Homo sapiens: one gene and its partners. The protein of the gene in region 1 purifies or fractionates together with the protein of each later gene. This does not show direct contact. Each region holds a gene or a part of one and is shown in the gene's direction. Other genes may lie near its edges. The genes, in order: SSH3, ANGEL1, YBEY and JMJD4.

The links.
Region 2: the proteins of SSH3 (region 1) and ANGEL1 purify together in Homo sapiens (affinity purification with mass spectrometry; 2 studies listed by BioGRID and IntAct, with this or other methods). This does not show direct contact.
Region 3: the proteins of SSH3 (region 1) and YBEY purify together in Homo sapiens (affinity purification with mass spectrometry; 2 studies listed by BioGRID and IntAct, with this or other methods). This does not show direct contact.
Region 4: the proteins of SSH3 (region 1) and JMJD4 purify together in Homo sapiens (affinity purification with mass spectrometry; 2 studies listed by BioGRID and IntAct, with this or other methods). This does not show direct contact.

Annotation. Positions count from the first base shown.
Region 1 is NC_000011.10:67,305,881-67,313,500, forward strand, and holds the end of SSH3 (protein phosphatase Slingshot homolog 3), read left to right. Parts: intron 1-957; coding exon 958-1,082; intron 1,083-1,161; coding exon 1,162-1,233; intron 1,234-1,490; coding exon 1,491-1,556; intron 1,557-1,668; coding exon 1,669-1,857; intron 1,858-1,965; coding exon 1,966-2,059; intron 2,060-2,293; coding exon 2,294-2,422; intron 2,423-2,531; coding exon 2,532-2,578; intron 2,579-3,516; coding exon 3,517-3,663; intron 3,664-3,887; coding exon 3,888-4,088; intron 4,089-4,185; coding exon 4,186-4,459; intron 4,460-5,710; coding exon 5,711-6,007; 3' UTR 6,008-6,712; downstream 6,713-7,620. UniProt on the Homo sapiens protein: Protein phosphatase which may play a role in the regulation of actin filament dynamics. Can dephosphorylate and activate the actin binding/depolymerizing factor cofilin, which subsequently binds to actin filaments and stimulates their disassembly.
Region 2 is NC_000014.9:76,784,671-76,789,101, reverse strand, and holds the end of ANGEL1 (protein angel homolog 1), read left to right. Parts: 3' UTR 1-2,509; coding exon of another isoform or gene 2,510-2,733; 3' UTR 2,734-3,093; downstream 3,094-4,431.
Region 3 is NC_000021.9:46,280,809-46,289,717, forward strand, and holds the start of YBEY (endoribonuclease YbeY), read left to right. Parts: upstream 1-5,533; 5' UTR 5,534-5,607; exon of another isoform or gene 5,608-5,935; intron 5,936-6,061; 5' UTR 6,062-6,105; coding exon 6,106-6,315; intron 6,316-8,909. Other genes in the region: MCM3AP (germinal-center associated nuclear protein), read right to left, coding at 2,807-3,030, 3,260-4,478. UniProt on the Homo sapiens protein: Single strand-specific metallo-endoribonuclease involved in rRNA maturation.
Region 4 is NC_000001.11:227,731,814-227,740,645, reverse strand, and holds the start of JMJD4 (2-oxoglutarate and iron-dependent oxygenase JMJD4), read left to right. Parts: upstream 1-5,343; 5' UTR 5,344-5,372; coding exon 5,373-5,634; exon of another isoform or gene 5,635-5,829; coding exon 5,830-5,995; exon of another isoform or gene 5,996-6,613; coding exon 6,614-6,739; exon of another isoform or gene 6,740-6,964; coding exon 6,965-7,232; exon of another isoform or gene 7,233-7,618; coding exon 7,619-7,765; exon of another isoform or gene 7,766-7,969; coding exon 7,970-8,254; 3' UTR 8,255-8,832. Other genes in the region: SNAP47 (synaptosomal-associated protein 47), read right to left, coding at 5,147-5,236. UniProt on the Homo sapiens protein: Catalyzes the 2-oxoglutarate and iron-dependent C4-lysyl hydroxylation of ETF1 at 'Lys-63' thereby promoting the translational termination efficiency of ETF1.

The DNA of each region.
Region 1 (7,620 bases):
TACAACAGAAGTATCATCCCCTATCGTGAGATTTTGTCCTTAATATTTCTTTGGTGATAAACATTTCTCAAATGAAATGATAGCATTTGCAAGTGACAGGGTAAAAAAAAAACAACAAAAAAAAACTGGCCGGGCGCGGTGGCTCATGCCTGTAATCCCAGCACTTTGGGAGGCCGAGGCGGGCAGATCACGAGGTCAGGAGATCGAGACCATCCTGGCTAACACGGTGAAACCCCGTGTCTACTAAAAACACAAAAAATTAGCCAGGCGTGGTGGCGGGTGCCTGTAGTCCCAGCTACTCGGGAGGCTGAGGCAGGAGAATGGCGTGAACCCGGGAGATGGAGTTTGTAGTGAGCTGAGATTGCGCCACTGCACTCCAGCCTGGGTGACAGAGCAAGACTCCATTGCAAAAAAAAAAAAAGAAAAAACCTCCTTCTTGCTGGGCACAGTGGCTCACGCCTGTAATCCCAGCACTTTGGGAGGCTGAGAAGGGAGGATTGCCTGAGTCCAGGAGTTCAAGACCAGCCCAAGAAACATAGGGAAGATCTCATCTCAACAAAAAACTTAAAAATTATCTGGGCATGGTGGCATGGGCCTGATGTCCCAGCAACTTGGGAGGCTAAGGTGGGAGGATCATGTGAGCCTCGGAGTTCGGGGCTACAGTGAGCTGTGATGGTGCCACTGTACTCCAGCCTGGGCGACAGAGTGAGACCCTATCTCAAAACAAAAACAAAAACAACCTCCTTCCTCAGCAGAAACAAAAAATGTGCAACCTATGTCAGTCCCATTCCCCGCTTTTTTCCACACAGTCCCTCTTTACCCACTGATTTTACATCTGGGAAGAGGGGGGATGGGAGAGGAAGGAGCAGGGTCAGCACTGTTCTGGGCCTGGGGTGTCTAGGTGGGGAGCAGGGTCCTTGGGGCCACTGTGACCCTGGGTTCCTCATCTCCCCCCAGGCAGCCCAGCTGGAGGCACCCCGGCCTCCCCGGCTCCGCTACCTGCTGGTAGTTTCTACACGAGAAGGAGAAGGTCTGAGCCAGGATGAGACGGTCCTCCTGGGCGTGGATTTCCCTGACAGCAGGTTCGAGCAGGGAGAGGAAAGGAGGGGCAAAGAGGTGAGGGACAGGGGGGACAATGGCTTTCCCTCTGTCCCCTGCCAGCTCCCCCAGCTGCACCCTGGGCCTGGTCTTGCCCCTCTGGAGTGACACCCAGGTGTACTTAGATGGAGACGGGTAAGCAATGGCAACTGGAGGTGGGGGCTGGAGGGTGGAATAACTGAGTGTGACGGATGTGACGGGGCCTGGGCACCAGGGTACAGTAGAACTTTAGGCTGGGACTCTGGGGCCTGCTCCCAGCTCCACGTCAGATTCACCGTGATCCTGAGCAAGGCACCTGACTCCTGGGTCTCGGCTTCCCGTATCCAGCAAAAGGATGGGTTCTCTGTCGCAGAGCCTGGAGTCTGGCCTCACCTGTGCCTGGTCTCCTGCAGGGGCTTCAGCGTGACGTCTGGTGGGCAAAGCCGGATCTTCAAGCCCATCTCCATCCAGACCATGTGGTAAGGACAGAGACTGCCTGGACTCAGGCCAGCCTCTCCTTCGAAGGAGGCTGCAGGGCCTGGGGAAGGGCAGCAAGGGAACAGTGTGACCCAGCCTCTCCTCCTGTCTCAGGGCCACACTCCAGGTATTGCACCAAGCATGTGAGGCAGCTCTAGGCAGCGGCCTTGTACCGGGTGGCAGTGCCCTCACCTGGGCCAGCCACTACCAGGAGAGACTGAACTCCGAACAGAGCTGCCTCAATGAGTGGACGGCTATGGCCGACCTGGAGTCTCTGCGGCCTCCCAGCGCCGAGCCTGGCGGGTCAGTGTGTGGAGGGGAGGGACTGGGTGGAGGGGAAGGCAGGATAATGCAGTGGGGGGCATGGTGGAGAGGGGAAAGGGCCCCTTGACTGAGGGGCTCTGCTCCCAGGTCCTCAGAACAGGAGCAGATGGAGCAGGCGATCCGTGCTGAGCTGTGGAAAGTGTTGGATGTCAGTGACCTGGAGAGTGTCACTTCCAAAGAGGTGGGCAGGGGGCCCGGGGACTGAGTCCCCTCTAGCAGGGGCTGCAAGCTTGCCTTTCCTGGGAGCCCTCCCCACCTTGCCTGTCTCCAGTCCTGAGCCATTCCTGGATGCCTTGGCCTTGGCCCTAATCCATCTAGATGGGATAGGGTGCTGTCCTCAGAGGTCCCAGAGGGAAGGTGGCAGGTTGGGCACTAGGAGAGCCCCAGCCTCTCTTGCCCTGGGCTCTGCCTGCAGATCCGCCAGGCTCTGGAGCTGCGCCTGGGGCTCCCCCTCCAGCAGTACCGTGACTTCATCGACAACCAGATGCTGCTGCTGGTGGCACAGCGGGACCGAGCCTCCCGCATCTTCCCCCACCTCTACCTGGTGAGCTTCAGCCAGGCCTGGGCCATGGGGACCGCTGGCAGCTGTGAGGGCGGCAGGCCAGGAGCAGAGGCTGGAGGAGAGGAGAAATGTGCTGTTCCCTCTCTCCCAGGGCTCAGAGTGGAACGCAGCAAACCTGGAGGAGCTGCAGAGGAACAGGTAGGGCTATGAGCCCCTCGGGCCACCCACCCCATCTTCCCTTCTCCTGGCCTCCCCGCATTGGGTGGTAGCCAGCTTCAAAAACCCCTGGACCACCCTCAGCAGCTGCTAGCTCTGCTTCTAACTCTGTCCTGGGGCTGTTGCCCTGGTGTGGGCTCCCAGGTGGGGACAGGAGACCTGCTGGCCAGCCCCCGCCCACTCTCCTCCCCCATCCACACTGTGAAACAAGGACAGAAACAAAGGGCCTCAGCCACGCCAAGACGAGAAGCAGCAGCGCATACTGCTGTAACTGCCTTGGACAAGCAGAAAAAGGCTCCTCTTGAATGCGCCTGTGGGCCCAGCTACTTGGGAGGCTGAGGCAGGAGGATCGCTTGAGCCCTGGAGATTGAGGCCGCAGTGAGCCGTGATCACGCCACTGCACTCCAGCCTGGGCAACAGAGAGAGACCCTGTCTCTAAAAAATAAGAAAAAAGAAAGAGAGAAAAAGCCTTTTCTCCACCTTGCCCTGTCTCAGGGAAGAAGGAACTGCCCTTCTCCCCGTGGGGACCTGGCTGCCTGCTCTGACAGGTACCTGTCATCTGCCCACCATGGGCTTCTGGGACCTGCTGTAGCCCCTGCCACCCACTGCTGCAGACCCACCCACTCTCAGCTTAGCTCAAAAGCTGTTCTCTAACTCATTTCTGAGAATAACTGAAGGGCTGGAGTTGCAGTTGGCCCAGCTGTCTGGACCAGATGGGGAAACAAGCCCAGCAGGGCAAGATGATTGGTCTAAGGTCGCAGCCAGGTGACAGCTGGGTCACTTCTCCTCCCACTGTCACTGCTGCCTCCATCTGACTTGAAACTCAGAGCTAAAGCGAGGCCCAGGGGCTGCCAGGTCCGATTGCCAGTGGGCCTGGTACCTCTGCCCACATCAGCCTGGCCTTGGGCCCTCTGGGACAGGGTCACCCACATCTTGAACATGGCCCGGGAGATTGACAACTTCTACCCTGAGCGCTTCACCTACCACAATGTGCGCCTCTGGGATGAGGAGTCGGCCCAGCTGCTGCCGCACTGGAAGGAGACGCACCGCTTCATTGAGGCTGCAAGGTCGGTCTCCTGGCTTTGCTGCCTGCCCCACTGTGGCTTCAAGCGGCCTCCGGTGCCCTCCTCCTGCCCACTCTGCCATCAGCTGTGCCATTCCTTCCAGCCCTCAGTGTCCTTCCCTCCTTCTCTACTCTCAGTTGGTTGTGAGCCCTTCACCTGCCCTCCCCTGCAGGAGGCGGGATCCTTCATGGTGAGGGGAGGGTGCTGAACCTGGCCTGCTTCCACAGAGCACAGGGCACCCACGTGCTGGTCCACTGCAAGATGGGCGTCAGCCGCTCAGCGGCCACAGTGCTGGCCTATGCCATGAAGCAGTACGAATGCAGCCTGGAGCAGGCCCTGCGCCACGTGCAGGAGCTCCGGCCCATCGCCCGCCCCAACCCTGGCTTCCTGCGCCAGCTGCAGATCTACCAGGGCATCCTGACGGCCAGGTATGGGATGGGAGCGAGTGGCAGGGGGTGAGTAGGTGGGTTTGCTGGGGGTGGCTGCTGGGTCACTCAGAGCTGACTCAGGGCCACCTCCTCACAGCCGCCAGAGCCATGTCTGGGAGCAGAAAGTGGGTGGGGTCTCCCCAGAGGAGCACCCAGCCCCTGAAGTCTCTACACCATTCCCACCTCTTCCGCCAGAACCTGAGGGTGGTGGGGAGGAGAAGGTTGTAGGCATGGAAGAGAGCCAGGCAGCCCCGAAAGAAGAGCCTGGGCCACGGCCACGTATAAACCTCCGAGGGGTCATGAGGTCCATCAGTCTTCTGGAGCCCTCCTTGGAGCTGGAGAGCACCTCAGAGACCAGTGACATGCCAGAGGTGAGGCTGGGGCTGGGGGAGCTCAGCTTGCAGGGGTGGGGGCCATAAGGAGGGAGATGGGGAAAGACCAGGATGGGCGTTTGACTGTAGACCTGAGCAGGGCGTACCCGGGCTAAGTCTGGCCCGCCCATGCAGGGTGTCCTGGGAGGACCCAGGGGGCCTGGTCCCAGCCTCCTTCACAGTCAGCCCAGTATCTCTTAGCACCCGGCGTCTCCAGCCTGTCCCATGAATACCCCTGAAGATGGGGACCAGCCACGTCCTGGGCCCCTGAGAGCAGCTGAGATCCAGTGAGGGCAGGCGGAGGCACTGTAGGCACAGGCTGGAGAGGGGTCACGGGGGCAGGGCAGGAAGCAGTGCCTGTTTCCAAGGCTCCTGGGTGAGCCAGCCCCAGCCTCGATCGCGGGCAGGTTCCAGCCTGACCACAGGACTAGCTGTCTCAGGGGCAGGGCTGCCTCCCCAGGCCATGAGCTCCACAGGCCCCTGCAGGCCCTGGGGGCGATCTCTAACCCCATGGTGGGGAGGCTAAATTAATCTCTGAAGCCCCTCCCTGGTCTGAGGAGCAGCACCTCAAAGGATGGGGTGGGGAGGAGTCTGCGCACTCACGCCGCCCAAGTCCTGCCTAAGTCAGCACCCTTGATGCTCAGTGCTGCGGGCACAAGCCTAAGCCTGGGAGCCAGGCCCTGTCTGGGACTCAAGGCCAAATGGCTGACTTGGAGGAAGGAGCATCCACTGAGGGCAGGAACATTTGGGAGAGGCTTCCTGGAGGAGGTGTGGGTGGGGAAGGATAGGGAGGCGTGGTGGGTTGATGGGCGGGTGTGGGCGTTGCTAAAGGCAAGAGGTCCTCACCCAGCACCGGACGCACGCATCCACCCAGCCCAGCTCAGGGGCTGGTGCCGGCACGGGTTTCACCTGCCGGCTGCCTACGCAAAGGCAGAGAAAGCATAGGAGGGGAGGAGGGCAGGGAGGCCTGGGTCTCCAGGGAGCTGAGGAGGGCTTCTGGGGGCCAGAAGGAAGCTACAAGCAGGTAGGGTTCAAGGAGCGGGGCAGCAGGGCTGGGGTGTTGTCCTCCCTCCCGAGGAAGCGTGGCTGTGGACAGCTTGGCTTTTGGCGTGCGTGCCACAAACATTCCGGCCCTCGCCTCCTCCTGGCTCTGTGCTTGGCACCCCTGCCCCAGATCTTCCCGGCTCTGTGCTTGGGCACCCCTGCCCCAGAAAGGCCTCCCATGGCTTCCGTATCCTCACACCTGTCCAGGTCTTCTCTTCCCACGAGTCTTCACATGAAGAGCCTCTGCAGCCCTTCCCACAGCTTGCAAGGACCAAGGGAGGCCAGCAGGTGGACAGGGGGCCTCAGCCTGCCCTGAAGTCCCGCCAGTCAGTGGTTACCCTCCAGGGCAGTGCCGTGGTGGCCAACCGGACCCAGGCCTTCCAGGAGCAGGAGCAGGGGCAGGGGCAGGGGCAGGGAGAGCCCTGCATTTCCTCTACGCCCAGGTTCCGGAAGGTGGTGAGACAGGCCAGCGTGCATGACAGTGGAGAGGAGGGCGAGGCCTGAGCCCTCACACATGCCCACGCTCCCCTGACACTGAAGAGGATCCACAACTCCTTGGAGAAACACCCTCACGTCTGTTGCCGCACACATTCCTCTCAGCTCCGCCCCATACCCGTCACTACAGCCTCACCTCCCACCCCTGTCACTACGGCCTCACCTCCCACCCCTGTCACTACAGCCTCACCTCCTACAGCCTTAAGTCCCAGGCCCATGTCTGCCTGTCCAAGGGCTCAAGACTTTCTAACTGGGATGTGGTAGAGGGACTGAAGGTACCTTTGGGGGCAACAGCACCCTAGTTTCATTCTCAACTCTAGCCCTGCACACTCACCTGTGGCACGGAATGAAAACAGAGCTTCCCGTGCAAAAAGGGTCACGCCTCCCACCCCCGCCCCCTCCCTGCACCTCCTGTCCTCTCCCAGTTCATTCCTGGAACCAGCCAGGCCAGGCAACCAGTGGCCCCCAAAGGCAGGCAGGATCCTCAGGCCCCAGCCGCGGGAGGCTGGAAGGGCTGGCAGATCGCTTCCCTCATCCACCTCCACCGGTCCAGGTCTTTGCTGCTGTCCCCAGACCTCCTGTGACACCACGCCAGATCACAGGGCACCAGGCCAGAGATAGTCTTCTTTTTGTCCTTTCTGGCCTCTGGCTAGTCAGTTTTTCATAGCCTTACAGTATCTGGCTTTGTACTGAGAAATAAAACACATTTTCATATTTGGTTATTTTCAATGTGACGATGAAGCCATCTGTGTTGCAGTCAGACCCTTCTCTGCTGGCTGGGGAAGGTGGCCGCCCCTTCCTCCCAGCAGTCTCCTCACAATTCCAAGGTGGCTCGTGACAGACCTATTTGGGGGAGTGCCGTGTTTGGGCGTGGCGTGGGAGGAAGATTGGGTAAGAGAAGAGAGGAAGTCAGTGCTATCTCCCCATCTCCTGGGGCAGGGCCTGGTAAATATGACCTGCTCACACCCACCCGCTCAGACAGGTCGGGCAAGGGAAGAAGTCGTCAGCGGGCAGCAGGCATGTGGCTCCACTGTGAGAGCTGGAAGGGGTTACTCATGAGGAAGTGCCTACCTGGACAGGACCAAGCCTGTTCCAAAAGCGAAGCCTCCTTGGGACACTCGGCGCCAGGTTCTCTGGCATGTTTTGGGTCCCAAGAATCACCTTCCTCCTGCTACAAAGCAAAGGGCCTGACTTTCCAAGCCAGGCTATTGCGGCCTGGGAAGAAGGACCCTTGGTGACACTTCCCCTCCTGCCCAGGGGTTCCTTCTGCTCAACTTTAGTGTCCAAGAAGAGTTAGTCATTCCATCTTTTTTTTTCTTTTTTTGAGACAGAGTCTGGTTCTGTTGCCCAGGCTGGAGTGCAGCGGCACGATCATGCCTCAGTGCAGCCTTGAATTCCCAGGCTGAAGAGACCCTCTCACTTCAGCCTCCTGAGTAGCTGGGACCACAGGCACACCTAGCTAAGTGGTTGTATCTTTGTCACTTCCTTTTTTTTTTTGAGACAGGGTCTTGCTCTGTCACCCAGAATAGAGTGCAGTGATATGATCTTGGCTTTCTACAGCCTCAACCTCCCGGGCTCAAGGGATCCTCCTGCCTCAGCCCCTGAGTAGTTGGGACTACCTA
Region 2 (4,431 bases), on another chromosome or scaffold:
TTCCCTTTTTCCCACGGTTAGACTTTCTCCAGGCCTGGCTGCGTTCTCTGCCTGTGGTCCTTGCCCCACCCCAGCCTCTTCCTAATCCTGTGCCACACACTCAGTGGCCCTGGGAGAGGCAGAAGGGGGGCTCCCCCTTCCTTCCATGTATCCAGCGCTCCCCCTTGATTTTTAATTACCAGGGTTATGGGAGTTCTTGATTTCATTGGTTATTTGCTTTCAGGCCGTTTCTTGATGTACCTTCTGACCTGACCTTTTCCCTGCCTTCAGGACTTCTGGGCCCAGCCCTCTTGCCAGGCATGCATATGTGAGATATGCATATCATGTATGTGTCCTCTTGGGGTGAGACTTCTGCACAGCCATGCCTGCCTCTGACCAGTCCACTTTTCATGTTGGGGCTGTAGGCCTGGGGCAGGTTCAGAGTCTACCCAAGTACCTATGTATGAGCAGGCAGCAGCAGGGCATGGCCCCATCTCTCCTTTTAGCCTCTGTGTTTCATTAGGCATTCATCCTGCCAACCAGGGCAGGCCCGGCGTCTGGGCTCTGGGAACAAATGGGGCCCACATCCTGGAGTGGCAAATTTTGGGGGATGCGCTACCTGTCCCAGCTGGCCCTGTGCCTCCAACCCAGAGCTCCCCACAGACCTGGTGTAATTTCACAAGGGCCATCCCTTTCCCCAGGCTTCCCTGAGGGAGGCGGAAGTTTGAACCCTTATGTGGGGTTCATTGGGCTAGGGTAGTGGTATGAGGTTTAAAACTATTTAAGGATTAGGAGGAGAAAGAGTCTTCAGGAAACTCTTGTTTCACTGGACTCTGCAGCCTGCAGAACTGGGGCAAGGGTAGGAGTTCCAGTAGGGGAAGGAGCAGGTAGACTCTTCAGCTGCCTCAGCTGGGACTGAAGACCTAAGCTGATTCTCTTTCCTCTCCACTCCTAAGAAGCAATTTTCTGTTCCTCTCCTTCCACCACTTTTTACTTTCTGCTATCTCCCATCTCCCGCTTCCCTTCCATTTCCTTTCTAGAAAACCCTGGTATTTAGCTCAGGCCAAACTGCCTCAGCAGAAAGGTGGCCTTGGACAAAACTGGTCCAAGAATTTGAAGTGGCAGTACTTGCGGATTGGCTCTGTCCAGCAAGGCCTCAGCTGCTTGTTGCGTCTGCTTTCCCTCCCCTAACAGAAGGGTACCCTGGCTTATTCAGGGGACTCCTTAGTCCACACTGTGTCACCTGCATGCCTTAATCTTTCATTGCTGGGGTGTGGCCTTGGGAGATCCTGGGCCAGCCCCTCCACACATCTCCCTAAGTCAGAGTGGCTGCTGGCCCTGGTAGATTTGACTTGCTCTTGCCTCACTCGACCTCCAAAGTGGGACTGAAGACAGTGGTCAAGAGACTTGAGTTCGGGACAGTAAGCCAGGGGTTAAGGTTCTTTCCTTTTTTTGAAAGCCAAAGACCCAGTTTGCATTGTGCTGCTGCATTCATGGTTAGAAGCTTTCCATGCCTAGGTTCTAGGGAATTTATTTTTCTATGTGTATATATTTTCAAACTTTGTTTCCTGGGTACTGGGCATGTGCCTGTCTGAGCCCCAGGTCTGTCTACACCCCACCATTCATTCTGTCTGTCTGTTCCCTGGACACTGCCTAAAAGGGTCTCAAGACAGTGCCCTGTGGGTTCCTAGGACTAGGGCCCATCACTGTTCTCTTCTGCTGGGAAATGCAGCTTTAAAATGGCTAACCACAGCAGAGGGCAGATGCTTGATAGATTATCTTTTCCTTGCTTTCTTGTTTCTGTTTTGAAAGTGAAATGGGGTTTTAAATTGTTATTTAAACTCTTTTTCCAAATAAAGGTTTACCTTTTTTCCCCCCAATGTTGTTCATTTTATTAGGATCCTGAAGGGATTAGGTCCTTGAGAGAGGGCCTGAAGAATGAGGTGGGCAGAGGAAGAGACTAAGGAGCTTTTGATCTTGGGGTGGGGTCTCAAGACATGAATCTAGATTGAGAAATGTGTTGTAAGATCTCCCTCTATTAGCTGAGGTAAATTCCCACTGCTGTGAGGCCTGGGAGGAACAGGGCTTGAGTGAAGCCTCCTGCCTTGACACTGCTGGGGTACAGCTTTCTTCTGTCCTTCCCAAGTGAGAGAATGATTCTTTGGACTGCTTTTCATTCTTCCTCCATCTGCTCCCCCCATGCCTCCTCCTAGTATCTTCTGCACTTCAGGAGGGTCTGTGCAAAGTGGGATAAGATGTGTGTTTTCCTGATTAAAGCTATGGCAGCTGCATGAGACATGATGCGGGTGGCACATGCCTCTTGCTGAGCATCTATTTCTGATCTCTTTTGCATTCTGGAGCCAGGGCTGAGCAGTGGGCCATCTGTCGCTGGAAAAATGTCTCTTCCTTCCTAGGCCTACCTCTGTTGGTGCTTTTGTCTTCCAACCTCCCTATGTAGTAAGACCAGCCAAGCCCACATGCCCACTGGGAGCCCTGAAACCAGATCTGGTTTTCTGTCTTACCTGAACAGGTTCCCAGAACCCACACCAGGCCTCTGAATCAGTCTCTGAGAATCTGATTGATTTAAAGCCACTTGGTTGCTTCCATTGCACTACCTGGGTTGCGATCCCCTCAATTGATTTAGTAAAAAGAAAACTTAGCGGCCGGGTGCGGTGGCTCACACCTGTAATCCCAGCACTTTGGGAGGCTGAGGCGGGTGGATCACCTGAGGTCGAGAGTTCCAGACCAGCCTGACCAACATGAAGAAATCCCGTCTCTACTAAAAATACAAAATTAGCCGGGCGTGATGGCGCATGCCTGTAATCCCAGCTACTTGGAGGCTGAGGCAGGAGAATTGCTTGAACCTGGGAAGCGGAGGTTGTGGTGAGCCGAGATCATGCCATTGCACTCCAGCCTGGACAACAAGAGTGAAACTCCATCTCAAAAAAAAAAAAAGAAAAGAAAAGAAAAGAAAGAAAACTCAGCTAGGAATTAGAAACATCATTTGTCCTCTTGGCCTGTTCAGCTGGTGACTGTAGGTAAGTTACTTAACCTCTCTGTATTTCAGTTCACATTCCTTGGTGAAATAGAAATTAAAGTTAATAATCACTTCTACTTGTGAAGAATTTTCAGATCTGAAATTGCTTTGTTTGGGCTTTGGCAAGAAAAAGGTGCTAAGAATTCCAGAGAATTATTGGTAGGAGTTGGGAGTAGATCGTTACCCCAGCCAGGCTGGACAGTTGGGCCCATTGGCTAGGAAGTATTTGAAAGCCCTAAGCTTTGAGGTATATCCCCAAGAACCTCTTCCTGGCAGGGAGGGTTCCTCCTAGTTGCCTCAGTCAGTTAGCATCTCCACAGCACTTCTGTTAAGTTTGCACAGTACTTCCACGTCAGCTAGCAAAGACAGTGGCACTGTGTGGTGGCAGTTTAGGTGGTGTTCAGATTCTACCTTTACACCTGAGGAAACAGAAATCCCAGAGATAGAATTTGAGAATCTCCTTTGGTTTATTTCTTACCACCCCAAGTTTCTCACAAGCCTTTCCAGGATCAGGCAAGACAGGTTATCTTGGAAGGCAGAGGCTGGTGGTGGGGGCCTGGGGCTGGGGGAGCTCAGAGGCAGCTTTTAACTGGAGACCAAGAAGGGAAATGGCCAGTCAGGAGGCTGCTGCTTTTTTTGTTTTGTTTTTCTCTCCAGTTCCTGCCCTGTTGTAGCTACTAACTAGAGGAATGTTCTGGTTGTTTTGTTTTTCCTTTTTAAAATTGACATGTGATAGTTGTACATATTTTGGGGCTGCATATGGTATTTTGATACATGCGTACAAAGTGTAATGACCAGTCAGGATATTTAAGGACATTTATCACCTCAAGCATTTATCTTTTCCTTGTGCTGGGAACATTCCAATTCTTCTAGCTATTTTGAAATATACAATAAATTGTTAACTATAGTCTCCCTACTGTACTATCAAATACTAGAACTTAGTCCTCACCATATTTTTGTACCATCCACCTGCTCTTCATTCTCCTCCCCTGCTTTTCCCAGCTTCTGGTAACCCCATTCCGCCCTCTATTGGAGGGTTGTGTTTTGATTGGCTGCGAAATGCACAGTGTGGCTTCTCTTCTCCCAGGAGTGGGAGGGGCCACCTCTAGGGTCCACCAGGGGGAGCTGCCCTGCAGCCCTGGGCTCCCATCACTCTGGTCCATCCCCTCTCCTCTCCCTCCTGAGCAAATGTGCTAGACAAGACTGTTCCAGGTATGGGCCAGCCAGATGGCAGCATGGTGGTGAGGGTGCAGATCTGCTGGAAGCAAGAGAATGTGGACTTCATGGGTTGTGGAGGGAACTCTGCACTTCTGTCCCATCCCCAGTCAGCTCCTATGACCCTAAGGCCTGAAGCCTCAGCTCGCTGTGGAGAGAACAGAGCCTACACTTAAAATTCTTGGAGGTTTTGTGCTTCC
Region 3 (8,909 bases), on another chromosome or scaffold:
CCCCTTTTTTTTTTTGAGACAGAGTCTCGCTCTGTCAGCCAGGCTGGAGTGCGGTGGTGAGATCTCAGCTTACTGCAATCTCCACCTTCAGGGTTCATGCATTCTCCTGCCTCAGCCTCCTGAGCAGCTGGGACTACAGGCGCCCGCCACCACATCCGGCTAATTTTTTGTATTTGTAGTAGAGACGGGGTTTCACCGTGTTAGCCAGGATGGTCTTGATCTCCTGACCTCAGGTGATCCGCCCACCTTGGCCTCCCAAAGTGCTGGGATTACAGGCGTGAGCCACCGCGCCCGGCCCCTTTTTTTTAATTAACAACTTTGCTTCATAGAACTCACAAACTTGGCCTTGTTGGCATTTGGTGAGATGATTCTCACCAGCTGATCACACATACAGAGACAGAAAGTTTGCGAAGTCACAATTAAGCACAAAAGGGAGCTGCAGAATAACACACATGGGATGCCACTTACCACAGAAAACACACACAAAACCAACCACGTTAGTCTCCGTGTAGATACACTCATAAAAATGTCTAAAAAAATACACATCACACTAGTTAACTGGACTGCTCCTGAGTAACAGGAGAGATGAGGATATTCAGTTTTGTCTGTATCAATGAATTGTTTATAAAGGCAGTCTATTTACATATTAGTTATGTCATAAAATATTTAAGGTTCAGCTGGGAAAATAAGCACATTGCAACAGGCAAAAAATAACTGTAAAAACAAAAGGGGGTTGGGCATGGTGGCTCATGCCCGTTATCCTAGCACTTTGGGAGGTGGAGGTGGGAGGATCACTTGTGCCCAGGAATTTAGGACCAGCCTGGGCCACATAGTGAAACTTCATCTCAAAAAAATAAATAAATAATAAAATAACAATAAAATAAATAGTAGTAATAAATAATAAAAACAAGGCCAGGCATGGTGGCTCACGCCTGTAATCCCAGCACTTTGGGAGGCCAAGGTGCGTGGAACACTGAGGTCAGGAGTTCGAGACCAGCCTGGCCAACGTGGTGAAACCCCCTCTCCACTAAAACTACAAAAATTAGCCAGGCATGGTGGTGCACACACAATCCCAGCTACTTGGGAGGCTGAGGGAGGAGAATCGCTTGAACTGGAAAGGTAAAGGTTGAAGTGAGCCAAGATTGCGCCACTACAATACAGGCTGGGAGACAGAGCAAGGCCCCGTCTCAAAAACAACAACAACAAAAATGAGAGCCGGTACAATGACTCAGGTCTGTAATCCCAACATTTTGGGAGGCTAAGGCAGGAGGACAGCTTGAGGACCGGAGTTCGAGACCTGCCTGAGCAACACAGTAAGACCCCATCTATACAAATGTAAAAATACAAACTTTTTTTAATTAAAAAAATTAAAACTAAAAACAAATTAGGATTACCATATGACCCAGCAATTCCAATCCTAAGAATATACCCCAAAAAACTGAAAGCAGGGACTCAAATAAGTCATATGCCAATGAACATTATTCACAATAGCCAAAAAGTAGAAACAACCCGCGTCTGCCAACAGACGAATCAACAAAACGTAGTCCATCCACTCAATGTAGTATCATTCACTTTATAAATTTATACTTTATAAATTCCTATAGAACGTAATTTTGTCTATGAGAATACTCAGAAAAAATAGTGACGATATAAAGCTATATAACATAAGCAGTCCACGTTCACTGCACCCTAGAAAGTATTATGCATACATTTAGGCTGGGCGCAGTGGCTCACGCCTGTAATCCCAGCACTTTGGGAGGCCGAGGCAGGCAGATCGTGAGGTCAGGAGATCGAGACCATCCTGGCTGACACAGTGAAAGCCCGTATCTACTAAAAATACAAAAAAATTAGCCGGGTGTGGTGGCGGGCGCCTGTAGTTCCAGCTACTCCGGAGGCTGAGGCAGGAGAATGGCGTGAACCCGGGAAGTGGAGCTTGCAGTGAGCCGAGATCATGCCACGGCACTCCAGCCTGGGTGACAGAGCAAGACTCCATCTCAAAAAAATAAATAAATAAATAAAAAGAAAGTATTATGCATACATTTAAAGTCAGGATACAAACCCAGTGCTTCAAAGCAGTTATCTCTAGAGGACAGACTGACAAGGGGAATTTCACTTTTTTTCTTTTTCTTTTTTTTGAGACGGAGTCTGGCTCTGTCTCCCAGACTGGAGTGCAGTGGCACGAACTCGGCTCACTGCAACCGCCGCCTCCCGGATTCAAGCAATTCTCCTGCCTCAGCCTCCCGAGTAGCTGAGATGACAGGCGCGAGCCACCACACCCAGCTAATTTTTTGTATTTTTAGTAGAGATGGGGTTTCACCGTGTTAGCCAGGATGGTCTGGATCTCCTGACCTCATGATCCGCCCACCTTGGCCTCCCCAGGTGCTGGGACTACAAGCGTAAGCCACCACGCCCGGCCAATTTCACTTTTTCTGTATTGTTTGAACGTTTACAGCGATCATCTTCTATGACCAAATAAAACAAAAACAAAACCAAAAAACTCAACTTCCAAAAGTACTATGTGGTTAGAGCCTTTCAGAAGAATTTCTGAATTTCTAAAGCCTTTCAGAAGAATTTCACTTCATGAGAACAACTCTCCCAGCATTTCTAGAGTACTATATTCTGTAGGGACCTAGAATATGCCAAGTTATGAAATAAATAGTGCTATCCCAGCCTATGCTAATAAGATATTTGAGTACTTTCTCTATATTATAGTAAGCAAACAACTGAGGGACCAAAAAAAAAAAACAGGTTTTAAAGTGACAAGGTTCAAATCTAGGGTAACAAATGGCAAGATGGGAGTACTCACATGATCAAAGAAATGTACCACTGCAAGCTTTTTGCTGCGCCTGGTAAAGATGCGCTGCACTTTAGCAATTTTGCCAAAATGGTTCTCCAGAATGGTCCTGTCGTTGAGGTAGTCAGGGATGTTCTTGCACTGGATGGCTGTGACTTCAGAGGGAGACAAGCCCCCAAGACTGTCTGTGCTCTCGCTTCTGTTACTCTGACGCGCCGGAGTTCCTCTTAGAGAATCTAGGGGTTCAGAGAATGGACACTTAAACCATCAGATGTTTCCAACAACAGGAGGCACCAACTGTGTCGAAGCAGAGGAAATTTTCAGATGTAAGACCTGCTCCGATGACATGTTAGAATCCCTAATGTTTATGGGAGATTTATCTGAAAAATCAAGCTAACACCCAGAGAAACGTATTGAAAACCTGCCTGCAGGATTTACTCTATGTGCTACATTTTCAGAGCTCACCTTCTTTCTTCTCTCTACTTTCAGTTTCTTCCTCTTTATTCACACCTGGAATCCGGGAAGGTGCCAGGACAGACTGATTCCCTCCTGGGATAGCCATGTGGTCACTTTCTGCAGACTCAACAAAGCCAGTTTCCTTTTTGGCCTCCTTGTTGCCCAGACGACCTACTTCCTTATTGCTTTTGAAAACATCCTGTATCGTCCGACCAAATAAAGTACCTCCCCGGGGTCGATTCAGGCGGACAGGTCGTTTGTCTGGAGGATGATCGCCCCGGGACAGAGGATCCGAATCTTCTGCTGGCTCGTGGCCATGTCTCCTTGGGGAGCGATCCTGGTCCTCCTTCCTTTTCAGTCCTTTCATTAGGCTGGGAAGTGGTTCCACCTGGGAAACAGCTTCTTCACACCCCTGCCTGACACCTGCTTTGCTAGCCTGGAAAGGTTCGCCCAAAACCGCAGATGATACAGGGAAGCTACTGAAGCTATTATTAGAACTTCCAAATATTGACTTAGGTCCTCTCTTCTCTTCCTCTACATTTTGGTTTGACAAAGCAGGGGTAAAGGCAGATAATGAATTATTACTACTAACAGGTTTTGAAAAGGTAAAATTTGAAGTGGTAGCTGAACTACTTGTTACTTGAGGAAAAGAGAAAGGGGCCAGGCCTCCAGGTGCACTACTAATTGGGTGGGAAAATGTAAAAAACCCAGAAGCAATTTGGCTCTGGGTTTTCTCTGGCTCAGATTCAGCCCCCAGTATTGGTTTGAACACTGCATTTTCCAGAGGTTTAAAGCTGAATTCTGTTTTCCCAAAACCAGAGTTCACTATTTCTCCAGCTTCTTGTCCAAAAGCAGAAGTGCTTGGGAAAGCCCCAACACTGGTGGGTGATTTAAAACTAAATCCTGTGTTTCCCAGCACAGATGAACTTGAAGGCCCAGAGGTAGCCACAAAGGTGGAAGTGTGCTCAAGTCCAGAAAAGGGTCCAACACTTGAGGTTTGGGTGAACCCTAATGTTTGCACTGAAGAGGAATGACTTACTCCAGAAGACGCTGGAAAGCTGGATACCTGTGAAAATCCCGAGCTCTTCCCAGATAAGGTACTGTTTTGTCCAAAAAGAGAAGGTTGACCAAATCGAAATGGCGGCTTAGATGGAAGTGTTCCTACATTACTAGAAGACGCCGAAAAAGCACTAGGCTGCTGCCCACTGAAAGGATTAGTTGGGTTCATCTTCTGCTCCAATTATTAGAAGGTAATTAAGTATTATGTGTACAAAATTAATTGGCTTCCTGAAACAGCCTGTAGCACTAGGGAGTTCCCCTTCGTCTTTAGAACAAGCTGAAAGAGAAAAATTCAGATCATCATAGCTATGTTCTGCTACAAGTCTAAGAAAAGAATTTTTGAACACTGTCATACTAAAAGGATAACTATTTCAAAGGCAGGCAAAGGGTTATTATTTTCTGAGAGCCGATAGGTTATTTTGTTGGAGGGTGGGGTAGAGAGTGGTACAAATAATTACTTTGTTACAGAGGTTTAAAGCGTGATCCTTTAAGATTAAAAAAAAAAAAGCCGAATCTTTTTACTGAGTTAGTAAATTCATGAAAAACCTCCATTGGCAGTAAGAAAATGAATGCTGTTCCACCTTACAACTTAGAGACGAATTTCTCCCGACTTCCTCCAATCTCTACAGCCGGAGAATTCACTGTAACGCTGTCAAAACCTTAGCGTTTCGGGATCTCCTCCCACCTGGCTTCCCTCGGAGCGGCTGGAGCGCTAAGCACTTTCTCACATTCCTTCATCGCGCCCTGGCGGCCACCCTCGAGCGGGCTGGAAGGACGAGGGCGCTGCCACGAAGCTGAGGCCTCTCGGCGGGGACGGCGTGCCCGGGGAGCCTAATCTTCCACCCAGCACAGCCCGAAACGGCGGAGGCCACGCGCTGGGCCCAGGCCGGCCTGGCCACTGTCCCGCCCCGGGCTCGCCAGGGGTCGCCGGCGCCGCAACGCTCCGTTAGCGACGATGTGGAGGCCCGGGCGCGCGGAGCTGCGTGGGGGAAGGAAACGGCGCCCCTGGCGCCGGCCCAGCCCCCACGCTCACCGTCTCGCCCCAGGACCCCGAGGCCCGCGCTGCCCACTGGCCCCTCGGAAAGACTTGAGGCGCAAGCACAGGCTGCTGCCGCGACACTCAGCGCTGCGCACCGCGGGCAGAAAACGCCGCGGACCGACTTCCGGTTCGCTCAGCACTACCGGATTCCGCCCCGCCCGCTGCGATCCGGTTCCGCTCCCCACAACCCGCTCTGTGGCGGGGCTTCCGGTCGGGAGGGTCCGCCCGCTCTCGCGTCCTTTGCTGGGTCCAGACACCGGTACGTCCGGGCGGGTTTTTAGTCTCCCAAGCGAGAGCGTCGCATTCACCCGCGTGGGTCTGCGGGCGCCCCAGACCCCAGAGGACCCGGCCCCCAACGCTTACCTGTCCCCTCTCCTGTCCCTCCCCCATTCCAGCCCCTTCTCTCCCCAGCCGTTGCCCCTCCCCGCACCCCGCCGCGTCCGCGCGCCTCTCTCCGCGCGCACCCCCAACCCGCCCCCTTTTCTCTGGGAACCGCTCCTTCCGCTCCGCCCGCCTGGAGTCCTTCTGGCCGGATTCCGCGGCATCCTTCCATAGACCCTCGTTGTTGCTTCCTCCTTGTGGTAAATGTAAATTCCCTTAAGATTTTCAATCAGTTCCACCAAATAAAGTGATCTGATTGCGCGTGCATCTGTATTTTTACAGACCGTATTATCACTTGTACTGATTGGTCTTCTCTTACACTTTAACCCCAGGTTCCGTTGCAAACATTTTTAAAGGGCTGGTTATTCTTCCTGAAATGAGTTTGGTGATTAGAAATCTGCAGCGAGTCATCCCCATCAGGAGAGCGCCACTTCGCAGTAAGATCGAGATTGTAAGGAGGATTTTAGGAGTGCAGAAATTTGACCTGGGGATCATCTGTGTTGACAACAAGAATATTCAGCACATTAATAGAATCTACAGAGATAGAAATGTCCCAACCGATGTGCTTTCTTTTCCATTTCATGAGGTAAAAAAAAAATGTTCCTCTTCTTGTCTAGCCCATCTTCCCAGAGTAAATTTCCTGTCGTTTTGTTTTGTTTTGTTTTGTTTTTTAATTGAGACGGAGTCTTGCTCTGTCACCCAGGCTGGAGTGCAGTGGTGCGATCTCGGCTCACTGCAACCTCCCTTCCTGGTTCAAGTGATTCTTTTGCCTCAGCCTCCCCAGTAGGTGGGACCACAGATGCTGGCCACCACGCCTGGCTAATTTTTTTTTGTCAGTATTTTTAGTAGAGACGGGGGTTTTACCATGTTGGCCAGGCTGCTCCTGAACTGATCTCAGGTGATCTGCCTGCCTCGGGCTTCCCAGAGTGTTGGGATTACAGGCGTGAGCCAGAGCACCCGGCCTAAATTTCATGTATTAATTATATTATAGGCTAGGCTCCATGGTGCCTATAAGTATATATGTTACAGACATGATTTTTAATTTTAATTTTGAAAATTTTCAAATATACACAAAAGTAGAGAGAGCAGTATATTCAGCCTCCACTGATCGAGGCCCATCACCCAGAGTCTACAATTACACTGGTAACCCAGCAGGAAAAAGAAAGGTGACAGCCGAGCGCGATGGCTCATACCCATAATCCCAGCACTTTGGGAGCCCGAGGCGGGTGGTTCACCTGAGGTCAGGAGTTCGAGATCAGCCTGGCCAACATGGTGAAACCCTGCCTCTACTAAAAACACAAAGAATTAGCTGGGTGTGGTTGTGCCGGGCGGGAGGTGGAGGGGGGCACCTATAATCCTAGCTACCTGGGAGGCTGAGGCAGGAGAATCGCTTGAACCCCAGAGATGGAGGTTGCAGTGAGCTGAGATCACACCATTGCACTCCAGCCTGGGCAAGAAGAGCGAAACTCTGTCTCAGGAAAAAAAAAAGAAAAGAAAAAGGTGACTAGCGTCCACCCCCCTTCCCCTCCTAATGCTCTCAGTGAATTAGAAGAGAGAAGCAAACTGCTTCTGCAATATTTTTGCAGTTTTAAGTGGGATTCGTTAATGAATATGTGCACATTGGAAAAATTAAAACAACACTGAAAATAAACAGACTGGGGTAAATATTTCCAACAAACTCAATGTAATAGCAGTCAGGTTATTATCTACATTCTGTAGATGACTTCATTCAAGGCTTCCCACATTGTAGCAGCAGGAATTGGAGCAATCCTTTGGGAAAGCAACTTGGCATTTCAAACACATGTATCCTTTAGTCCTGTGGTGACACACCCAAGACAATAAACCAAAAGGCAGAAGAGGCCGGGTGCAGTGGCTCACGCCTGTAATCCCAGCACTTTGGGAGGCCGAGGTGGGTGGATCACGATGTCAGGAATTCAAGACCATCCTGGCCAACATGGTGAAACCCCGTCTCTACTAAAAATACAAAAAAAGTTAGCTGGGTGTGGTGGCATTTGCCTGTAATCCCAGCTACTCGGGAGGCTGAGGCAGGAAAATCTCTTGAACCAGGAAGTCGGAGGTTGCAGTGAGCTGAGATTGCACCACTGCACTCCAGCCTGGCGACAGAGCGAGACTCCGTCTCAAAAAGAAAAAAAAAAAAAGAAGAAAAGAAAATGCTGAATCACGTAAAAATGTATTGAAATGTTAATTTATTGGCTGGGCCTATAATCCCAGCACTTTGGGAAGCTAAGGTGGGAGGATCACTTGAGCCCAGGAGTTCAAGACCAGTCTGGGCAACATGGTCAAACCTTGTTTCTACAAAAAATAAAAACAACAATTAGCCGGGCATGGTGGTGTGCAGAGCTGTCGTCCCAGCTACTCAGGAGGCTAAGGTGAGAGGATCGCCTGAGCTCAAGAAACTGAGGCTGCAGTGAGCCAAGACTGCACCTCTGCACTCCACCCTGGGCCACAGAGTAACACCCTTTTTCAAAAAAAAAGTTACCATTTTCTGTAATAGGAAAATAAGAGGAGCATCCTAAATATCCAGCCATAGGTGACTGGCTTAGTGTGAACAGTCCTTAACTAAGTGGACTGGTCTTTATAGTCTTTATGTGGAAAATGTGAAAGACTCTTTAGGACAAAATACCAAGTGGAAAGAACAGGAATATACAGTCGTGTCCATGTGATGATTTAACTCTGTAGAAGTTGTGGATCTGCGTGATTCTGCATTGGGAGGGATGAAAGAAATGAAAAGCCATTTGACAAGGTGATAGCAACCTAAACAAACAGGCTTTTAAAGAAAAGGATGTTTATTTGGGATAGAGCATTGCAGTGAAAATACATGCCACATGCCATAGTAGACTGTGTGGATATTCGCATATTCAGGGAGGTAAAGGAAGGCAAGGGTTTTGTTTTTTTTTTTTTTTTTGAGACGGAGGCTTGCTCTGTCACCCAGGCTGGAGTGCAATGGCACAATCTCGGCTCACTGCAACCTCCACCTCTCAGGTCCAAGCGATTCTCCTGCTTCAGCCTCCCGAGTAGCTGGGATTACAGGCGCCCACCACCACATCTGGCTAATTTTTTTTTTTTTGTATTTTTAGTAAAGTTGGGGTTTCACCATGTTGGCCAAGCTGGTCTAGAACTCCTGACCTCAGGTGATCTACCCGCCTCTGCCTTCCAAAG
Region 4 (8,832 bases), on another chromosome or scaffold:
CACACTTGGGGGAAGGTGTTGTAGTCACAGGGACTCACTCATCACACACTGCAATCTGTACAATGGGTCTCTCTCAGTCTTTCCATTATATGTGTGCCCCCTGAATGAGACTCAATCTCCAGGAAACAATCTACTTTTAGTTACTTTCCACAGTTCCACCATCCAAGGCAGTCCTCCCTCCCTCCACACCTGGACAACATCTCAGGCAACCTCCTGACCTCATCCTGTCCCCATCACCCATTCCCCCTCCAGCAGTCAATGAGATAGTCATTGAACAGAATTAGAATATGTCACTTCTCTGCCCAAAGCCTTTCCCTGTGTACTTGGAATGAGATCCAAGTTCCTTACCGCAGCCTCATGGACTCTGCAGGACCTGCGGCCTCCCTGCCCTGGCCTTCCCCTGCCCTCTGCTCCCAGCAGCCTTTCCACACCAGGGAGTCTCATTGGTGGCTCCACTCCGCAGGTCTCTGTTCGGAGGGCTTCCTCGCCTTCCTAAGGCACTGTCACCAACCATGGCCCAAGCAAAACTCCAGAGAGTTGGTGCTTTCATGACTGTCGCACTACAGAAGGCACTATCATGGGAGGGCCGCAAGGCCCGCTACACACCATGGGCACCCAATGAATTTGTGCTGAGTTGACCACAACCACACCACATGGAAACAGAGCTGTGCCTATGCCCTCCTGTACCACATAGTTCTGCAATCAGTCCAGGTCCTGGAGCCCTCACGGTGTCCCTGCCTGTTGCAATCTGCAACCTCCTTCCTCCAGTGCAGGTGTGGGCCTGGGGACCCGCGCTGACCCTGAGAACACACAGCTGAATCCTCGAGGGAGGTCATGGCCAGGGGCCCAAGGGTGTCTGCAGCCAACCCACACAAGTGACGCTCTTGGGGAGGAAGTCTGCAGCACAGGGATGGCTCAGCACGCAGGGCGATCTGTACAATGGGTCTCTTTCAGCATTTCCATCACTCAAGGGTCCCCTGAGTGAGGCTCAGTACCCAGTAAACAACTTATTTTTAGTTAATTTCCGCAGTCACAGAACAAACATCTTGCACACCTTCCACTACCTCGCAACCAAGAAGCTAAGTGAGAACAGTGGTGGCTGTGTGTGCCCACAGGGGCGGTAGGGTGCGGCCAATCTTTCCAGGCTCCCCTCCCCTGCTCCTCAGACCCTCTTTCCACTCCCTCAGAGGTTCCCAACTCTAGCCACAAAGTGCAGACACCCTCACTGGGGCTGTTTGCATGCAACACAGTGACAGAGGAGCACATATTCGGCACAAAGCGTACTGCATTTTCTCCAAAGTGCTGACTTAAAACCCGTCCTGGCCAGGCACAGTGGCTCATACCTGTAATCTCAGCACTCTGGGAGGCTGAGGTGGAGGATCACTTCAGCCCAGAAGGCAGAGGTTGCAGTGAGCCAAGATAGCGCTATTGCATTCCAGCCTGAGTGACAGAGGAAGACCCCGTTTTAAAACAAAAACAAAAAACCATCCTAATGGAGTATTGTGTGGGGCCCAAGAATGTGGATTTCTTGCCATTCCCAAGCGATGCCAGGGCTGATCTAGCGGGCTCTGGGTGACACAAGCCTATGTTCCAGTCCCATGAGAGCTGATAACACTCCAGGCCTCCTGCGTATACAGTGGTGACACTGACCCGAGGGGGCACCCTGCGGACCAGCGAACTAAACCACAGAGTTCCATCTCAAGAACGAGAGCTCCATCTCCCACCAAGTCCTAGGGGCTCAGTGATCTCAGGGAGCTGTGGACCTGCTAGCCCAAATGCTCCTTTCTTAGGAAACAGGCTCAACCACGGAGCTGCAGGAACTCCTTCCAGGCAATGCCCACCTGAATTTCAGTTTCCCCATGAGGCAAACTCGGAACCATATTCCAAGATCTTGAGACAATTATAAACACTCTGCTCCCCACATCTTCCCCATTGGCCTCCCATGATCTGCATGCACCACAACCAAAATCAAATGACTACTAGCAATTAAGGAACAATATGTGGCAAGATCAATTAAGGTCAATTAATTGTCAATATTGAGGTCAATATGTGGCAAGATGTTACAGCATATTGTTAAATAAAAAACAAAAGACTAAAAGCAGCAAAAGTTTATATATGTATATTATACACGATGGAGAAAGAGACTGTGTATGTGTGAGTGTGTGTGCATACATGTGCGTGAACGTATAGGCAAGGACTGGGGGGAGAGAAGAGTGGAGAGAGAGAATGAATGAATGAATGAATGTATGTGTGAAGGAATGTAGAAAAGCCGGCTCTACACCAGGAATAAAAAACGGTCATCTCGGCTGGGTGTGCGGTGGCTCACGCCTGTAATCCCAGCACTTTGGGAGGCCGAGTCGGGCAGATCACAAGGTCAGGAGTTCGAGACCAGCCTGACCAACATGGTGAAACCCCGTCTCTACTAAAAATACAAAAATTAGCTGGGCGTGGTGGTGCGCGCCTGTAATCTTCGCTACTCAGGAGGCTGAGGCAGGAGAATCACTTGAACCTGGGAGGCGGAGGTTGCAGTGAGCCAAGATCATGCCATTGCACTCCAGCCTGGGTGACAGAATAAGACGCGGTCTCAAAACAGCAAAAACAACAAAACAAAAAACAAAAAACAAAAAAACCAAAAAAAACCAAAGCAAAAAAACCCCAGTCATCTCTGGACGGAACTGGAGGTGATTCTTTCTCTGCAACTGTAACTTCTCCAGACATTCTGATTCTCTAGTGTAAAAAAAACCCCAATAAACAATTGCATACCGTGATCACACAAGCCACAATAGGGCTGACTAGGAAGGGACCATAGCACGCACTGAATCACACAATCCCCAAAACAACTCTCCGCCTCCTGTCCCTGCCCTCATATCCCACCTTTACCTGGACTCAGACTCCCAAAACTCACTTTCCTCCTAGTCCTCCCTCCAACTCCTCAGACCTTGGTCCTCCCTCTTCTGCTCCTCCCTGTTCTCCTGGGTAAACCTCACACCCCTTGGAAAGAGTCTTCCAGCAAGGCTCAGAGCCCCAGCACTCCTAGAACCTCCCATATCCCCACTTATAAGAGTAAATAAAACAACATTTCCATTGCTTCATAAAGGGAAGGCAGGTGCCCCTCTCCCGCTTAGGATGCCTCTGTTTGGTCTGGAATGAGATAGCCCAGTGTCCAGATTTTACAAGACACAGTCATGGTCTGATGGCCCCTAGAATGTCATCAGACCTCCAAACCTAACTCAAAGGCCTCGCACTGTGTGCAAACCAGCACAAGCTGCCTCTCATTTCTCTGGGAGAGATGAGCGGTTCTAACTGTTCCTCCTTCCACCTCCCTGTCAAGACGCCTGGGAAATGCTGCCCAGACTCTGCACTCTCTCGCAGAGCACCTATGTGCACACAGCCTGCCAGGCTTCGGGGGCAATAAATCTGCTATCTTTCCTTCTGCATCCATGTGGGTAGCTTTGAGCTGATTTCTCCAGCACACCAAGACATACATCACATAGGGTCCCCCATGGCCCCACTTTCGTGTCCTGGCCGAAAATCACAGAGTACCCTGATCCCTCTGTGCCCCAACCACAGGTTTTCCCCACCAGGCTTCAACCCAATCCAGGGCCTTTAACATTTCCAGGCATGGAAGAAAGTATCTAGGTTTACTACAAAGAAAACGGCCTTGGCCCTGAGCCAAATTCCTGAAACCTTCCTATAAACTCCATAACCCACACCCCTTCCAAGAGACATACCTAGGGAGGACATCCCTTTTCCCTTACTGCCCGTCTCGAGGACTACCGCAGCCCACTCTATATGAAAGTTCCCCTAACAAAACCTCTAGGCAGGGCCTGGCGCAGTGGCTCACACCTGTAATCCCAGCACTTAGGGAGGCCAAGGCAGAAGGATTGCTTGAGCCCAAACGTTCAACACCGGCTTGGGCAACACAGAGACCCTGTCTCTACAAAAAAAAAAAAAAAAAACAAAAACAAAAAAACAAAACTAAGCTGGGCATAGTGGCTCATGCCTGTAGTCCCAGCTACTTGGGAGGCTGAAGCAGAATTAAAGAATTCATCAAGCCCAGGAGGTGGAAGCTGCAGTAAGCTGTGATGGTGCCACTGCATACTGTCTCAAAAAAAAAAAAAAAAAAAAAAAAAAAAAAAAAAACTGCTCTGGGCTTACCATGCATTTAGCACTTCTTTCTTTGGTATCCCAACTGGTCCCACCTGAGGATAGTGTGGGGAACTCCCTTGCCGCCACTTTTGGGGTAACTCCAGTTGCAAGTTTGGCAAAACACTCCTCATGTCACTACTCCGATGTCCTCCCACTTCAGCCCTGCTCATGTGTACACAGCCCCAAATCCCTACCCACACTCCCACCACACCTTCATTTCACACCCTCCCTCATTCCCCACCATCTTCTCCAGACACCCGTCATCCCCTGGGGCCCCTTGCCATGCCCTCCAGGTCCCCTGTGGGCCCCATTCGCCCATCTAGGTTACCCTGCCCCCTCCAGCCCTCCCACCATTTTCCTCCAGGTCCCCACCATCCTCTCTAGATCCCATGTCCCCTCCAGGTGCCACTGATCCCTCCAGGAACCCACTGTCCCCATCCCTTCCAAGTGCTACCGTCCCCTCCAAATCCCCACTGTCCCCTCCAGGTCCTCAATGTCCCCATCTCCTCCAAGTGCCACCGTCCTCTCCAGGTCCCCACCGTCCTCTCCAGGTCCCCACTGTACCCATCCCCTCCAGATCCCACCGTCCTCTCCAGGTCCCCACTGTCCCCATCCCCTCCAGGTCCCACCGTCCCCTCCAGATCCCGTCTCCATCCCCTCCAAGTGCCACCGTCCTCTCCAGGTCCCCACCATCTCCTCCAGGACCCTACCATCTCCGCTAGATCCCACCATCCCAGGGCCCCCCAGCTCTCCCTCTGGGTCCCACCGTTCTCTCCGGGTCCCATCATCCCTGGGCGCCCCCGCACCGCCGCACTCCCGCCCCCAGAACCGCCTCTGTCCCCGCCCCTCTCCCAGCGCAGCCCGCATACCCCCCACCCCCCGGGGATGCGGGAAGGAGGGCTCGGGCTGTGTCAGCCACAGCGCGCGGACTGAGCCGAGGGCGGACGCTACGGCTTGGCTTGGGCCGGGCGCCCAACAGACCAACACCGTCGCTCACCTGAGGGACGCCAGACGAGTCCCAGAGCCGACCGCGGCGCCTCGGCCGCTCGGCGCCTGCGCAGTGAAGACCGCGGCGAGCCGCGCGCATGCGTGCAGGCCCGGAGCCCCAGGCGCTGGCGGGGCAGAAACGCGGCGCCCTGCGTCTTCTGGTTCCGAGGCTGGTCCTCACCGTTTCCGCTCCGGCGGAAGTGAGGAGGAGGGTCCTTCGACCCGTGCTGAGCTGGATGGACCGCGAGACGCGCGCCCTCGCCGACAGCCACTTCCGAGGCCTGGGGGTCGATGTCCCCGGCGTCGGCCAGGCTCCGGGCCGGGTAGCCTTCGTCTCGGAGCCGGGCGCCTTCTCCTACGCCGACTTTGTGCGGGGCTTCTTGCTGCCCAACCTGCCCTGCGTGTTTTCCAGCGCCTTCACGCAGGGCTGGGGCAGCCGGCGGCGCTGGGTGACGCCCGCGGGGAGGCCCGACTTCGACCACCTGCTACGGACCTACGGTGGGGCGGCGGCCGCAGACCCCGGGCGGGGAGGAAAGGCCGGCGGGACCCAGGCCCGGGAGGCCCCCGCCTAGAGAGGGGCACCAGGGAGGGTGAGGGAGGCCAGGCGCGTGGCCCCTGGAGAGTTCCTCTGCAGACGGTTTGGAGTGAGGACGGGGCCCAGGGAGATGGCATGGACCGTGCCTTTCATTTCAGGAGACGTGGTTGTACCAGTTGCAAACTGTGGGGTCCAGGAATACAACTCGAACCCCAAAGAGCACATGACTCTCAGAGACTACATCACCTACTGGAAAGAGTACATACAGGCGGGCTACTCCTCTCCCAGGGGCTGTCTCTACCTCAAAGACTGGCACTTGTGCAGGTAATGGGGCTTGGGACGCACCGAGGCGCTGCCTTCCCTAGCGCTGCGTGAACCCAGAGGCCTTTCTGATGAAGGTGGCCCCTGGGTGCACAACGGAGCTATTTTTCCCCGTGAGGCACTTTAATCAGTTTAAAAGAAACTGGATTGTCTTCCGCATGGCTGCAAGTGTTGTTCTTTGGGAGGTCAATATGGTTTTTTTTCCTTTTTTTTTGAGAGAGATCTCCTCAGCCTCCCTAGTACCTGGGATTACAGGAAGGCGTCTCCACTCCCGGCTTTTTTTTTTTTTTTTTTTTTTTTTAAAGAGACTAGGTTTCACCATGTTGCCCAGGCTGGTCTTGAACTCCTGAGCTCAGGTGATGCATCCACCTCAGCATCTCAAAGCACTGGGATTATAGGCATGATCAGTACTTTCTAATAAGCAGAACCATTGTAGTCAGACTGCCCCGCCCCCTCCCCCGCCAGCAGCGTCTGGCTCAGAGGAGGGTCTGGGGCTCTTTGGGGGCTGCAGCCATCTGGAAGCTCCACTGGAGCCGATTGGTCTCAGTTGCCCCACTCGTGCTGCCCTAGTCTCCTCGTGCCTCACGTGCTGTCGGTGGTGCCCTTGCGCCCTCCTCACAGGGACTTTCCGGTGGAGGACGTTTTCACCCTGCCTGTGTACTTCTCGTCCGACTGGCTGAATGAGTTCTGGGATGCACTGGATGTGGATGACTACCGCTTTGTCTACGCGGGGCCTGCGGGCAGCTGGTGAGGCCACGGATGTGGGAGTGGAACCCGAAGGGGCCTGGTGACAGAACGGACTGGGAGGCCCAGGGTGGCAGGAGGGGGGCTGCTTGGCACAGGCCTCACAGTGGGTGCCATCCCTTGAGACCAAGGGGCCACCCCTCCTTCAGTTGGACCAGGCCTCTGGGGTGCCAAGCAAAGCCCATACCAGCCCCTACAGGCATGAACCAGGCGCTCTTGCTGCCGCAGGTCCCCGTTCCATGCTGACATCTTCCGCTCCTTCAGCTGGTCTGTCAATGTCTGTGGGAGGAAGAAGTGGCTCCTCTTCCCCCCAGGGCAGGAAGAGGCCCTGCGGGACCGCCACGGCAACCTGCCCTACGACGTGACCTCCCCAGCACTCTGCGACACACACCTGCACCCACGGAACCAGCTTGCTGGCCCACCCTTGGAGATCACGCAGGAAGCGGGCGAGATGGTGTTTGTGCCCAGTGGCTGGCACCACCAGGTGCACAACCTGGTAATGTGCTGCTTCTCCTGCCCCCTATCAGGGGCCTTCCTGCAGGAAGACGGCAGCACCACCTCCCCACTCTCCCAGCCAGAGCTGGGCTGGAATGGGGTGGCTCATGGGTGAGGCTGACCCCTTCACAAGGTGGTGTCGCTGAGGCCTAGCCTCTGTTTCACCCACTGCCGGTCCCTGGGTCTACTTGCTCTGGGTTCACTGTGGCCTGAGGTGGTCCGAGCCCGCCACCCACTTCCCTGCTGAGCAAGCCCTGCTGGGAGACAGGAGGGCCCTCTTGGCTGCAGAGGGCTGGACCCCACAGTGGGTTCCTGGCGCAGGAGATGTGGGTTGGTCAGGGGGCACCTGCCATGGGCTCAGGCCTGCCTGCACTGTGCCCCTTCCAGGATGACACCATCTCCATCAACCACAACTGGGTCAATGGCTTCAACCTGGCCAACATGTGGCGCTTCTTGCAGCAGGAGCTATGCGCCGTGCAGGAGGAGGTCAGCGAGTGGAGGGACTCCATGCCCGACTGGCACCACCACTGCCAGGTGGGGTGGCTACGCATGGAGGCTACCCTCCTGGGGGAGGCTTTTAGGCTGCATGGCTCAGACTCCCTTGGTCACCGCGCAGCTTCTCAGTGCCTCTGTCTTAATGGTCCCTTCTTCGTCCTTGGGGACTGGGCGCATGTCGGGTCCTTTGCAGCTTGGACTGTGTCCATGGTGTTAGCTCACTGGCCTCTTCCCTCTGCCCAGGTCATCATGAGGTCCTGCTCGGGCATCAACTTTGAAGAGTTTTACCACTTCCTCAAGGTCATCGCTGAGAAGAGGCTCCTGGTCCTGAGGGAGGCAGCCGCTGAGGACGGTGCTGGGTTGGGTTTCGAACAGGCAGCCTTTGATGTTGGGCGCATCACAGAGGTGCTGGCCTCCTTGGTTGCGCACCCCGACTTCCAGAGAGTGGACACCAGCGCGTTCTCACCACAGCCCAAAGAGCTGCTGCAGCAGCTGAGAGAGGCTGTTGATGCTGCTGCGGCCCCATAGCACCTGTCGTGAGGATAGAAGGACGGGTGGAAGAGAGGCAGCCTCCTGCTCCGGGGCCCTTCCAGAAATAAAGACCGCCCTCCCTGTGACCTGGGGCCCACCCCTGTCGAGGCTTGTGGCCTGGCTGTTCATGGCCACTGCCTGGGTGCCTGTTTTCAGGTGAGGCCCAATGAGGTCAGGGACCCAAGATGGGATGTGGCCCTTCTGACCTGCAGCAGGCCTGCTGGGAGCTCGGAGATGGTGCCAGGACCTGGCTCTTTTGGGGGCCCTGCCTCCTTAGGCCAGGACGCCTGAGCTGACAGGAGTCTGTGTCTGGTGTGCCTTCTCTGGTGGCTCCTCTTAATAGGCCAGCCCTGTCCCCTCGTCTCAGGCCATTGGACCACCCCTGGCTCTGCCCTGTGGGTTCAGGGAGGGGTTGGAGCAGTGCTGGGCAAGCTCACCAGGGCCTCCAGGCAGGGCTGGGGTTGGCCTCCATCACCTCCAGGTGATGGGCTGTGGAACCAGCGGCCTGCGCCTTCCTCTGGGTACCCAGAGTGGAGGGCTGGGTTGGGCTGGCCTTTGCCACCTCCCTGCCTTTG